Homo sapiens: one gene and its partners. The protein of the gene in region 3 purifies or fractionates together with the protein of the main gene of each other region. This does not show direct contact. Each region holds a gene or a part of one and is shown on either strand. Other genes may lie near its edges.

Evidence for each region.
Region 1: the proteins of KLK14 (region 3) and CNNM4 purify together in Homo sapiens (affinity purification with mass spectrometry; one large-scale study listed by BioGRID and IntAct). This does not show direct contact.
Region 2: the proteins of KLK14 (region 3) and ZC3HC1 purify together in Homo sapiens (co-immunoprecipitation; one large-scale study listed by IntAct). This does not show direct contact.

Annotation. Positions count from the first base shown.
Region 1 is NC_000002.12:96,763,891-96,767,536, reverse strand, and holds part of CNNM4 (metal transporter CNNM4 precursor), read right to left. Parts: intron 1-3,646. UniProt on the Homo sapiens protein: Probable metal transporter. The interaction with the metal ion chaperone COX11 suggests that it may play a role in sensory neuron functions. May play a role in biomineralization and retinal function.
Region 2 is NC_000007.14:130,034,290-130,037,935, forward strand, and holds part of ZC3HC1 (zinc finger C3HC-type protein 1), read right to left. Parts: intron 1-3,646. UniProt on the Homo sapiens protein: Required for proper positioning of a substantial amount of TPR at the nuclear basket (NB) through interaction with TPR.
Region 3 is NC_000019.10:51,079,957-51,084,191, forward strand, and holds the start of KLK14 (kallikrein-14 preproprotein), read right to left. Parts: upstream 2,932-4,235; 5' UTR 2,792-2,931; coding exon of another isoform or gene 2,766-2,791; intron 2,681-2,765; coding exon of another isoform or gene 2,659-2,680; coding exon 2,619-2,658; intron 1,748-2,618; coding exon 1,576-1,747; intron 1-1,575. UniProt on the Homo sapiens protein: Serine-type endopeptidase with a dual trypsin-like and chymotrypsin-like substrate specificity. May activate/inactivate the proteinase-activated receptors F2R, F2RL1 and F2RL3 and other kallikreins including KLK1, KLK3, KLK5 and KLK11.

The DNA of each region.
Region 1 (3,646 bases), on a different chromosome or scaffold from region 3:
GCTGCAAGGGGGGTGCAGAGCTCTGCCCTCTTCCTTCATTACTTAGCTTCAGGGTCTGGGAGAGTGGTGAAGGCAAAACACAAACTGGGGCAGGAGGAGCTGGAGGTGGCTTTGTTCTGAGATTCCAAGGTGGACAAACCCACCCACAACACCCAGTACTGCAAACAGTTCCAGGCGAGGTTTAAGCGGAAGGGCCAAGGTTCAAATCACAGGAGACTCTCAGGCCTGAGGGCTTGTCTCACCAACTCGATGATCTTACTCCTGTGGTCCTGCATCACCTAGCATCACGTCTTGCACGCAGCATGGGGTTCCACAGATATCTGGCACTAACTGCCGTGAGCTGGGAGACAGAAGTGCTGCAAGGCTGTACCCCTGCCTTACTCCTAGGGACACTCGGCCCCTACCTCTGCATCGATGCCCCTAGCCCGTCTCTAAGTGTGTAGGAGCACATTCATGACTCATCTAATGAGGGAAGCTGTGTAAACCCCCAGTGGCCAAAGACCACTTACTGGTGGGGAAACTGAGGCACATGGAGAGGAACCATGCATCACACTCAAGGCCCCAAACTCTACTTCTCAGTCCCTGACATGTCATCCCAGGCACTCCTCCTGTCTGTCCTGTGTGGCTGGAACTCTGAACCCGGTAAGTGCACAACACCCATTTTTCTTTGCACTCATCAGCTCCTCAGAATTCTAACACTATTAAAATGGGAATGATCCTCTGCCAAAACAGACAGGTATTCATTCACTCACTTACTCACTCAGTGCCATGGATGGAGGCCTTACTATGTGCCAAGAGCCATTCTAGGGGCTAGAGATACATTGATGAGCAAAACAAAGAGACCTGCCCTTTGAAACTTATATGCCAGTGGGAGGAGACAGACAGTAGACAACACAGTAAATCAGCAAATTACATAGATGCTAGAGAGCAATGTGTGCTACGAGAAGAGAAGAAATCGGCACAGGGCAGGGGAGATTAGGAAGTTGGGGTGGGATGGTGGGTGCAGTTTTAAACAAGGTGGCAAGAAGGCCCCACTGAGAGGTGACCTGGGAAGACAGTGAGCCATGCTGACTTCTGGAGAAGAATATTCCAGCCCAAGGAAACAACCAGGGCAAAGGCCCCATGGTGGGAGCATCCTGGTGTGTTTAAGAACAGCAAAAAGGGCCAGGCACGGTGGCTCACACCTGTAATCCCAGCACTTTGGGAGGCCGAGGTGGGCAGATCGCTTGAGGTCAGGAGTTCAAGACTAGCCTAGCTAACATGGTGAAACCCCATCTCTACTAAAAATACAAAAATCAGCCAGATGTGGTAGCATGCACCTGTAATCCCTGTTACTTGGGAGGCTGAGGCACAAGAATAGCTTGAACCTGGGAGGTGGAGGTTGCAGTGAGCCGAGATCATGCCAGAGTGAAACTCTGTCTCAAAAAAAAAAAAAAGAAAAGAAAAAAAAAAAGGCCAGGTGTGGTGGCTCACACCTGTAATCCCAGCACTTTGGGAGGCTGAGGTGGGTGGATCACCTGAGGTCAGGAGTTCGCAACCAGCCTGGCCAACATGGTGAAACCCCATCTCTACTAAAAATACAAAAAATAGCCGGGCGTGGTGGCGGGCGCCTGTAATCCCAGCTACTCGGGAGGCTGAGACAGGAGAATCGGAGGTGGAGGTTGCAGTGAGCCGAGATGGTGCCATTGCACTCCAGCCGGGGCAATGAGAGCGAAACTCCGTCTCAAAAAAAAAAAAAAGAAAGAAAGAAAGAAAGAAAAAAAGAACAGCAAAAAGGCCAGTGGGGCTTGCCAGAGAGTCATCCATTGTTCATTCATTTGTCCAACACTTACTGGAGACCCGTCTCTTTACCAAGCACTGAGTGGTGAAAACACTAAGAAGGCATGGCCTCTACCCTCAAGGAGCTTATAATGCTGGAAAGGGGAAAGAAAGAATACAAAGGCCCTAAAAGAGGATTACTTGTGGGGCAGAAGGACTCTGGCAAAGCTAGGCTCAGGACCCTCACCCAACCTGGGGTGGAGGAGGGTCCAGGACAGACCCTCAGAGAGAGATGCTGGGCTAGACAGTTGCCCCAGCTCTGACTCTGGTGCTGTTAACAATGCCAGCTGAAAGGCTGGGCAGGGTGGCTCACACCGGTAATCCCAGCACTTTGGGAGGCCAAGGCGGGTGGATCACCTGAGGTCGGGAGTTCAAGACCAGCCTGACCAACATGGCGAAACCCCGTCTCTACTAAATAAACAAAATTAGCCAGGGGTGGTGGCACATGCCCGTAACCCCAGCTACTCAGGAGGCTGAGGCAGAAGAATCGCTTTAACCCGGGAGGTAGAGGTTGCAGCGAGCCGAGATTGTGCCATTACACTCCAGCCTGGACAACAAGAGCAAAACTCCGTCTCAAAAAAAAAAAACAACAACAAACAAACAAATAAAACAATGCCAGCTGTTCTAACTTTGCTCACTTGTTTCTCTTAGCAAAAAAAAAAAAAAAAAAAAAAAAAAAAAAAAAAAAAAAAAACCATTCCCAACACCAGACTCCTAAACTCTTTTTTTTTTGAAACAGAGTCTTGCTCAGTCGCCCAAGCTGGAGTGCAGTGGTGCGATCTGGGCTCACTGCAACCTCTGCCTCCCGGGTTCAAGCGATTCTCCTGCCTCAGCCTCCTGACTAGCTGGGGCTACAGGCATGTGCCACCACGGCTGGATAATTTTTTGTATTTTTAGTAGAGACGGGGTTTCACCATGTTAGCCAGGATGGTCTCAATCTCCTGACCTCGTGATCTGTCCGCCTCGCCCTCCCAAAGTGCTGGGATTACAGGCATGAGCCACCGCGCCTGGCCAAGAAACTCTTAAATTGCAGATGTACACTAGGTGTGTGCTGTGTCCTGGGTAATCTCAGACTAAGAAGGTGGACGCCAGATTGGAAGGTCTGGAAGAGGCCACGCTGCAGGGAACCCGGTGTGCAATGAGTTAAAACTGGTTTTCCAAGACCTCTGAGAATGGGGAAGTAAGTGATGGCATAAAGCCGCAGGGCCTGTTCATTTGTCGGGGGTGGGTAGAGAGGGGGGACTATCACCATCTCCAGGGCGGCCTGCTGTGCTGGGCAGCCTGTGTGCAGTTCCCTGGGTTTACCAGCACTGCTCCAGGGCTTGGCCTCAGGCTACTGGCCTCTGTTAAGCAGAGTTTCCCGGAGTAAACTGAACCTGGGGACTCTGGCTCAGCAGAGCTCTGCTACGGCCTAAGAGATGCTAGCTCTGTTTTCCCAACTTAATGAAAGGGCACTTGACAAGACAGAGCCCAAAGACAGCCCTCTCAAGACCCAGGAGGCTCCAACCCAAGAGAGCTCAGCCCTGCTGATCAAGACTGGGAGACTGGTCAGACCAATCCATACTGGTTGGATCCAGATTCCAAATGAACTGATGGGAAGGTGCTACTGGGTGTGTCACAAACCATAGTCCCAAACACCACAGAGGCAGTGAGGAGGAAGTTGCCCTGGAGGGTCCTAATCAGGTTCCCAACTAAGCAATAGGAGAAGTCTTCAGGTCCCAAGGCTTAGGGTGGGGGTGGGGCACAGATCCTCACTGCTTTTCTGTCCCAGGCTCGGGTACCTGGGAAAACCTGATTCCTGGGTCTGCACTCCCAAAGCCGCCCCCAC
Region 2 (3,646 bases), on a different chromosome or scaffold from region 3:
CCTGGCTAACACGGTGAAACCCCGTCTCTACTAAAAATACAAAAAATTAGCCGGGTGTGGTGGCGGGCGCCTGTAGTCCCAGCTACTGGGTTGGCTGAGGCAGAAGAATGGCGTGAACCCGGGAGGCAGAGCTTGCAGTGAGCCGAGACCCTGCCACTGCACTCTAGCCTGGGCGACAGAGCGAGACTCCGTCTCAAAAAAAAAAAAAAAAAAAAAAAAAAAAGAGACAGGGTCTTGCTCTGTCATGCAGGCTGGAAGGCAGTGACATGATTATAGCTCACTATAACTTGGAATTCCTGGGTTAAAGGGATCCTCCTGCTTCAACCTCACGAGTAGCTTAGGATGACAGGGGTATGCCACCACATCTGGCTAATTTTAAAAAATTTTTTCTTTGTAGAGACAGGGTGCCCAGCCTGGTCCCAAACTCCTGGCCGCAAGTGATCCTCCCACCTTGGCCCTGCAAAACACTGGGATTACAGGCATGAGACTCCATGCCTGGCTGGGGTTATTACTTTAAGTCCTTTTATGTCTTCTAAGTTTAGTTCTTTGCCTCAAGACTTACCCCTTGCAGTTTGTACTCTACCCTAGTTCATGTTATCTATAACATCTCTTCCTTCAAAAAATCTCGTAGCTTCTCATCACATACATTTAATAAAATCATGGTTTGGCCACTGTCTACACTTTAGTCTTCTCTTCTATTCTCCCCACAGGGACACTGTGAGCCAGCCCTGTGAAACTATTACAGCATTCCCCAAATGTACCATCCTTTGGCCTTTTGCTTTTACCCACTGTTGCTGGTCTTTCAAATTCAGCCTAGAGGCCAGGCACAGTGGTTCACGCTTGTAATCATAGCACTTTGGGAGGCCGAGGAGAGTGGATCATTTGAGGTCAGCAGTTCAAGACCAGCCTGGCTAATATGGTGAAACCCCGTCTCTACTAAAAATACAAAACTTAGCCAGGTGGTAGCGGCATGCACCTGTAATCCCAGGTACTCGGGGGTGCTGAGGCAGAAGAATCGCTTGAGCCTGGGAAGCAGAGTTTGTGGTGAGCTGAGATCAAGCCACTGCACTCAAGTCTGGGCAACAGAGTGAGACTGTCTCAAAAAAAAAAAAAAAAAAACAGCCGAGTGAAGTGGCTTCCTTCTTCAAAAAATCTCGTAGTTTCGCACCTGAACCTGGGAGGCGGAGGTTGCAGTGAGCCCTGTGAAACTATTCAGCATTCCCCAAATATATCAGCACTTTTTTTTTTAATGGAGTCTCACTGTGTCGCCCAGGCTGGGGTGCAGTGTTCAAGCGATTCTCCTGCCTCAACATCCCCTAGTAGCTGGGATTACAGGCATGTGCCACCACGCCCGGCTAATTTTTTTGTATTTTTAGTAGAGATGGGGTTTCACCACATTGGCTAGGCTGGTCTCGAACTCCTGACCTTGTGGTCCTCCCGCCTTGGCCTTCCAGACTGCTGGAATCACAGGTGTGAGCCATCACGCCTCGCCACTTTGCCTTTTTTCTTGGACTGTATTGCAGAATGTGGATTTGGAGCAAGTGGTCCTGAAGCACTTATTTTGTCACCCACAGATTAAGATTTTCCTCCACAGGCTACACTTGAAGGTCTCAACACTTTGAAGTCTCCTCTTATGGGGCATCCAGTCTAACCCTCTGGCTTGCTACTTAGCAATGGGTGTTCTGTGATGGGGTGATTTGGAAGGAAGGAGTCTGCCCCTTTCTGAGCCACAACAGTGAAGCCATTTGATCTGAGCCTAGGTGGGAGAGATATTTTAATAGATAAACATTCTAGCTTTGATTTTTCTGAAGAGTAATATGCCTGTTTTTTTTTTTTTTTCCGCAATTCAGGGGATTTTCTTTGGTGCACTTGTTGACTCTGCATGAATTTGCAATCCAAGGGAAAAGTTGGAGAAAGAACAAAGTTGGCTTTAAAAGTCAAGGTAAGGCTGGGAGTGGTGGCTCACGCCTGTAATCCCAGCACTTTGGGAGGCAGAGGCAGGTGGATCACCTGAGGACAGAAGTTCAAGACAGCCTGGCCAAAATGGTGAAACCTCGTCACTACTAAAAATAACACTTTGGGAGGCTGAGGCAGGAGAATCGCTTGAACTCAGGAGGGAAAAATTAGCCAGGCATGGTGGCGGGCACCTGTAATTCCAGCTACTCGGAAGGCTGAGGCAGGAGAATTGCCTGAACCCAAGAAGCGGAGGTTGCAGTGAGCCAAGATCGCGCCACTGCACTCTAGCCTGGGTGACAGAGTGAGACTCCATCTCAAAATAAAAAATAAAATAAAATAAAATAAAATGTTTAAAGAAATTTAATTTAGCTTATAATTATTGGCAAATGTTAGAAAAAAATTACCTTCAAAATTATTAGTTTTGCTTAATAAATTTAAGCATAAAGTGAAATAACTGAGTGTTCTTTTATCCACACAAATGTCCTTTGAATGTTAAAGAACCAAACCAAGGGATCATATAATTGAAAGGTTATATCTAAGATCCATGTAGGAGGTAGAATGGATAGGTCAAAGTGGGTGACCATAGAGAAGAGCATCTAAAGTGACTTTCAGGTTTCTGGCTAGGACAACTGGATGGGACGTCAGTGCCATTTGCCAAGATGGAGAAAGTTTTAGGTATAAGATGAAGAGTTCAGTTTTATACACATTGAGTTCCAGGTACCTATAATATTAAGTGGAAATGTTTAGAAGGTAGATGAAAATATGAGTCAAGCTCAAAAGAGAGGTCTGGATAGGAATTAGAGGTCTCCGAGGTGGTAGCTGAAGTTATGAATGAGATCAGGAAAGCAAAATGTACGGTGACAAGAGTTGGGAACCACCAATAGAGCCCTGGGCAGACCTTAAAAACTTGGACGGCCAGGCGCGGGGGCTCACGCCTACAGGCCTCCCAGCAATTCTGGAGGCCAAGGCAGGCGGATCACTTGACGTCAGGAGTTCAAGACCAGCCTGGCCAACATGGTGAAACCCTGTCTCTACTAAAAATACAAAAATTAGCTGGGTGTGGTGGCACGCGCCTGTAGTCCCAGCTACTCGGGAGGCTGAGGCAGGAGAATTGCTTGAACCCAGGAAGCAGAGGTTGCAGTGAGCCTAGACTGAGCCATTGCAGCACTCCAGCCTGGGCGACAGAGCAAGACTCCGTCTCAAGGAAAACAAACAAACAAACAAACAAACAAACTTGGACTGAGTGCACTAGACAAGGATGGAATCAAATCCTCATAGGACCAAGTTTTGTTATACAATACAGGTAAATAACTAGTAAATCCTAGCTATTTCAACAGCAGGAAATCCTTATTATACAATCATCTTCACTTAAACAATTTTATTTAATAATCCCTTTTCTACCACCCTTTCATTGATCAAAGGTAGAGGGGAATCTCTGGTTATTTTCAATCTATTTTCTCCTTTTAGTGGTAAATCATGGAATATTCTTAGCCATCAGTGACCCTGGAATTAGCCTGCCATCCTACTGAAATAAAAAATATACCTACATGGCACTGATTCCTGGTCAAGGCATGAAATATACAGATGAATAGTGTTGCTTTTTAACTATGGGTCTAAAGAATTTTTTTATACTTGCTCTTAGATTCCCCACCAGAGGGCTCTGCTGTTGAAGCTGTTTACTCAGCAGGAA
Region 3 (4,235 bases):
TTGGGAGAGCTTGGCTCCGTGCCAGGGTCTGTGCTGGGCTCGGTGCATTGAGTCCTAAGCGAAACTGCGTTATGAGTCTAGGCTCTAAATCGGAACTGATATTCCGGAGTAGGCACCATTCTGTTTCTAGCCTGGGTTCTGAGTTCTAGACATCTTAAACTTTTGACTCTATGCTAAGATCAGGATTCTAGATCGAACCTGGATTATGACTTGATTTATTTATTTATTTTTTTTTTGTGATGGAGTCTCGCTCTGTCACCTAGGCTGGAGTGCAGTGGCACGATCTCAGCTCACTCTCGACCTCCAACTCCCAGTTCAAGTGATTCTCCCGCCTCAGCCTCCCAAAGTGCTGGGATTACAGGCGTGAGCCACCGCACCCAGCCTCTACAGGTCTGTTTCATATTGGATTATAGGGCTCTTGGTTCTGGACTCTGGCCCTAGCCCTTGACCTCAGGTTGGGCTCTGGGTTCTAGTTGGAGCTCTAGGTTATGGCCCGGATCCAAGATTCTAGAGTCTGGTTTGCATTCTGGCCTTTATATTCTAGACTCTGGCCTGAGCTTTGATCTCTAGGTTCTAGACTGACCTGTTTATGGCATAGATATGGCTTATAGGCATTTTGACCTCTTGGCTGGGGTCTGGGTTGTAAGTTCAGATCTAGAATTTAGGAGGGGTCTAGGTTTTATATGGGGCTTCTGATTAGGATCTGCATTCTGGGATTTATTGATTGATTGATTGATATGGAGTTTCGCTCTTGTTGCCTAGCCTGGAGTGCAATGGTGCGATCTTGACTCACTGCAACCTCCGCCTCCCAGGTTCAAGTGATTCTCCTGCCTCAGCCTCCCGAGTGGCTGGGATTACAGGCATGTGCCACCATGCCTGGCTAATTTTGCATTTTTAGTAGAGACAGGGTTTCTCTATGTTGCTCAGGCTGGTCTCGAACTCCTGACCTCAGGTGATCTGCCTGCCTCAGCATCCCAAAGTGCTAGGATTATAGGCATGAGCCACCGCACCCGCCACATTCTGGGATTCAAACACTGGGTTGAAGTCTGCTCATAGCGGAGCTATAGACTAGACTCTGAACTAAACCTTGGGTGTGAAACAGCCTCCAGGTTTTGCCTCTATTCTTAGAGTTGTATGTTCCAGCTGTGAGCAGCGTTCTAGTTCTGGATTTATGGCTAGACTGCAGGTCCTGAACTGGGCTCTGAGTTCTACGTAGTGTCCTGAGTTTCTGAATGTAGACGGGGTCCTGAATTCAGCCACCAATCTGGAATGGGCTAAGCTTGGTCTCGATGTAATGTGTGGCCTCTGGAAGAATCACTGGATCAGATGTTCGGTTCTCAGCAGGTCCATGGGTTCCAAGCTGCCCATCTGCTTTCAGAACCTATGCTGAGTTCGAGATTTATGGAGGAGCCCACATCCCGAGCTGTGTTTTTGTTCCAGGCTCTTCTCTAGACCTCAAACCAGGAGCCAGCCACTACATTGGGTTCTATACAGAGATCCAGGTTCTCAGCTCAGCTCTAGGGCTTTAGACTCTGGAATTCACTAGGTACAGGGACAGGGGAGGGGGTCACTTACGGGCGGCCGCAGTGAGCAGCAGTGATGACCCACTGGCCTGAAAGCAGGGCGCCTCCGCAGAGGAAGCGGCGCCTGGGACCCGCCAGCAGGGCCGCCTGCCACGGCTGGGAGCTCCGGGTGCACGTATGGCCACCAATTATCTTGTTCTCATCCTCTTGGCTCTGTGTCATGGCTAGGAGTGGACAGGATTGGGTGGGGAAAGTAGATGAGCAAACACTCTCCACTCCACAAGTTTGTAGGATTCCAAAACTGACAAATCCCCTTCCTTTTGGTCTAACCCCTAAACTGCCCGCCTCTATCTGTCCCACCCAGGGTGAGACATGCCCAATATTGACCCCGTTATTGCCCCAGCACGGAGAGCTTTCTGACTCACCTCCCAAGTCACCTCCGTAGCATCTCTTATTTTGTGCCGTGGCCACCTTATCCAGGGCCTTGCTACATCTACGACCCTTAGCTCTATGCTCCCATAATTTCTGTGATCACTTCTCGAAATATGCCACATTTCCCCCCAATGAGTCCTTCCCCAACACATTCAAGGACCTCCCTGTCTCCTCCCCAACGTTCCCACTCAGTGGGACCCCAAGGATCCGCCATCTCTTGCCCCACACTTGCCCCCATCCACCTCACACACCCATGCCACGATCCCGCCACCCCATGCCACGATCCCGCCATCCCATCATCCTTCTCCACCTTCCCTCTGACAACAAAACATCTTTCTGACATTGTTTCTTTCCTAACACAGTCAGGTAGAGCCCCGTGATCTTTCTGCTATGACCCACTCAGGACCTAATAGTTCCCTAAGATTCCTTATGTATTTTGCACCAGACCTTATAAACACCTCTCTCCCCGGCCCCACAATTCCCTAGCACCTCCACAACTAGGAATTTAGGCCTCCAGCACGTTCCCCCACCATGACCCCCAAACCACTCCCTGCTCTTTCTTATGAGGTCACCATGAGCATCCAGGGGCCCCAAGGACCCATCCCCATCTCTTCTCAGAGTCTCCAGGGGACCCCCTTGTGTCATACCCAACCGTTCTCTTACCTATAGCCAGGACTTGAAGTGCTGTCAGCAGGAGGAACATTTTAGGGGCTGAGGGCCAGGTCCTGTCAAATGCAGAGAAAAAGTGAGAGAGAAGGAACCTTCAACAGAACCGGGGGCTGAGAGGCAGAGACAGCAAGGGGCACTTACCCAGAGCCCAAGACCCTCAGGGACATGAAGACACAGCAGAGAGGTAGGGACCAGAGACGAGGGGGGCGGGGCCTGCAGGCTCTGCGGGCGGCAGGTGGGAGGATGTGGAGCAGGGCACAGGTCCCTCCTTGATGTCTTGATGAAGGAAGGAGGGGAGGTGTCTCTCTTCCTAGTCACACTGGCAAAGCCTTTTATCCCTGGTAAGGACAGCTGGCCCTGCCCCCACCTCCCGCCGCCCTGCTTCTGACATTTTTTTTTTTTTATTGCCTAGTTCCCATTCCAGGACTCCCTGATCCCATCCCCTCCCTCCCCTGTCTGGCCAAAAAAGCAGCCACAATTGTTCATGAGAACCCGCCCAGGGAAGATGCTATAATCTAGAAGGAATCCTGGGAGGGGACCCCAGGGCAGGGTGGGCAGGGGAGGGTTCCCAGTTGCTGGAGGTGGTGGATCTAGTGGTGGAGTCAGGAAACCAGGGTGGGGAGTGTCAGAGGAAAGGGCACGAAGGGGCTGAGAGAGGGAGGAAGAGATGGACTGAGAGAGGGAGTCACGGGAGGAGGGAGAGAGGGAGAGAGAGAGAGAGAGAGAGAGAGACAGAGAGAGATGGAGAGAGAGAAAGACAGAGAGACACACAGACAGAGAGAGACAGAGACAGGGTGACGGGGGGGAGAGAGAGAGAGAGATGGAGAGAGAGACAGAGAGAGAGCCAGACAGAGAGACACAGAGAGAGAGAGAGAAAGAGAGAGACAGAGACAGAGTGACAGAGAGGGGGAGAGCAAGAGACAGAGAGAGACTGGGAAAATGAATGAGAAGATATGACAGTGGAGAGAGAGGAGTCCAGGAATACGAGCACAGAGGCAGGTGTGCTCATGAGAGAAGGAACTGAGGAGAGAGCTGGAGAAACCGGTGGAAGTTGGATGTGACAGGGAACAGAAGAGGCAGACGGTGGGAAAAAAACAAGACAGAGGAAGAGGGAGACACAGAGACGCAGGGAGAGAGGGGTGTGGAGAAGTGGAGATAGAAAAGCAAAAGACGGAGGGAAGAAGGTGGAGATAGAATGGAAACAGACACACAGAAAGAGAAAACAGTGGAGAGAGAGGAGAGAGGCCGAGACGCCCCCACCATGCGGCACTCACCACAAACACACACAGAACAACAGCGATGATGATGAAGGCAGTGCGGGCATGAGACGTGGAAGAGAACGGGACATGGTGGGAGAAAGAGGATGGGACAGGCAGGCCGATGGCAGAGGGGAGACGGGAAGGATGGGCACCTACAGGGGATGGGGACAATGACAGAGGAGACGGAGGCCTAGATGAGAGATGGCAGCGCCAGGGAGAGATGGAGAGGAGGGGTGGGATAGAGGACGGGCAGGAGGTGGGCGGGAGATACCTGGACCTGGAGCAGAGCTGCCCACCTTGCTTTCTCACTTTCGACTCCTGAGAGATGGGGGAGCAGAGGCCCCAGCAGGGA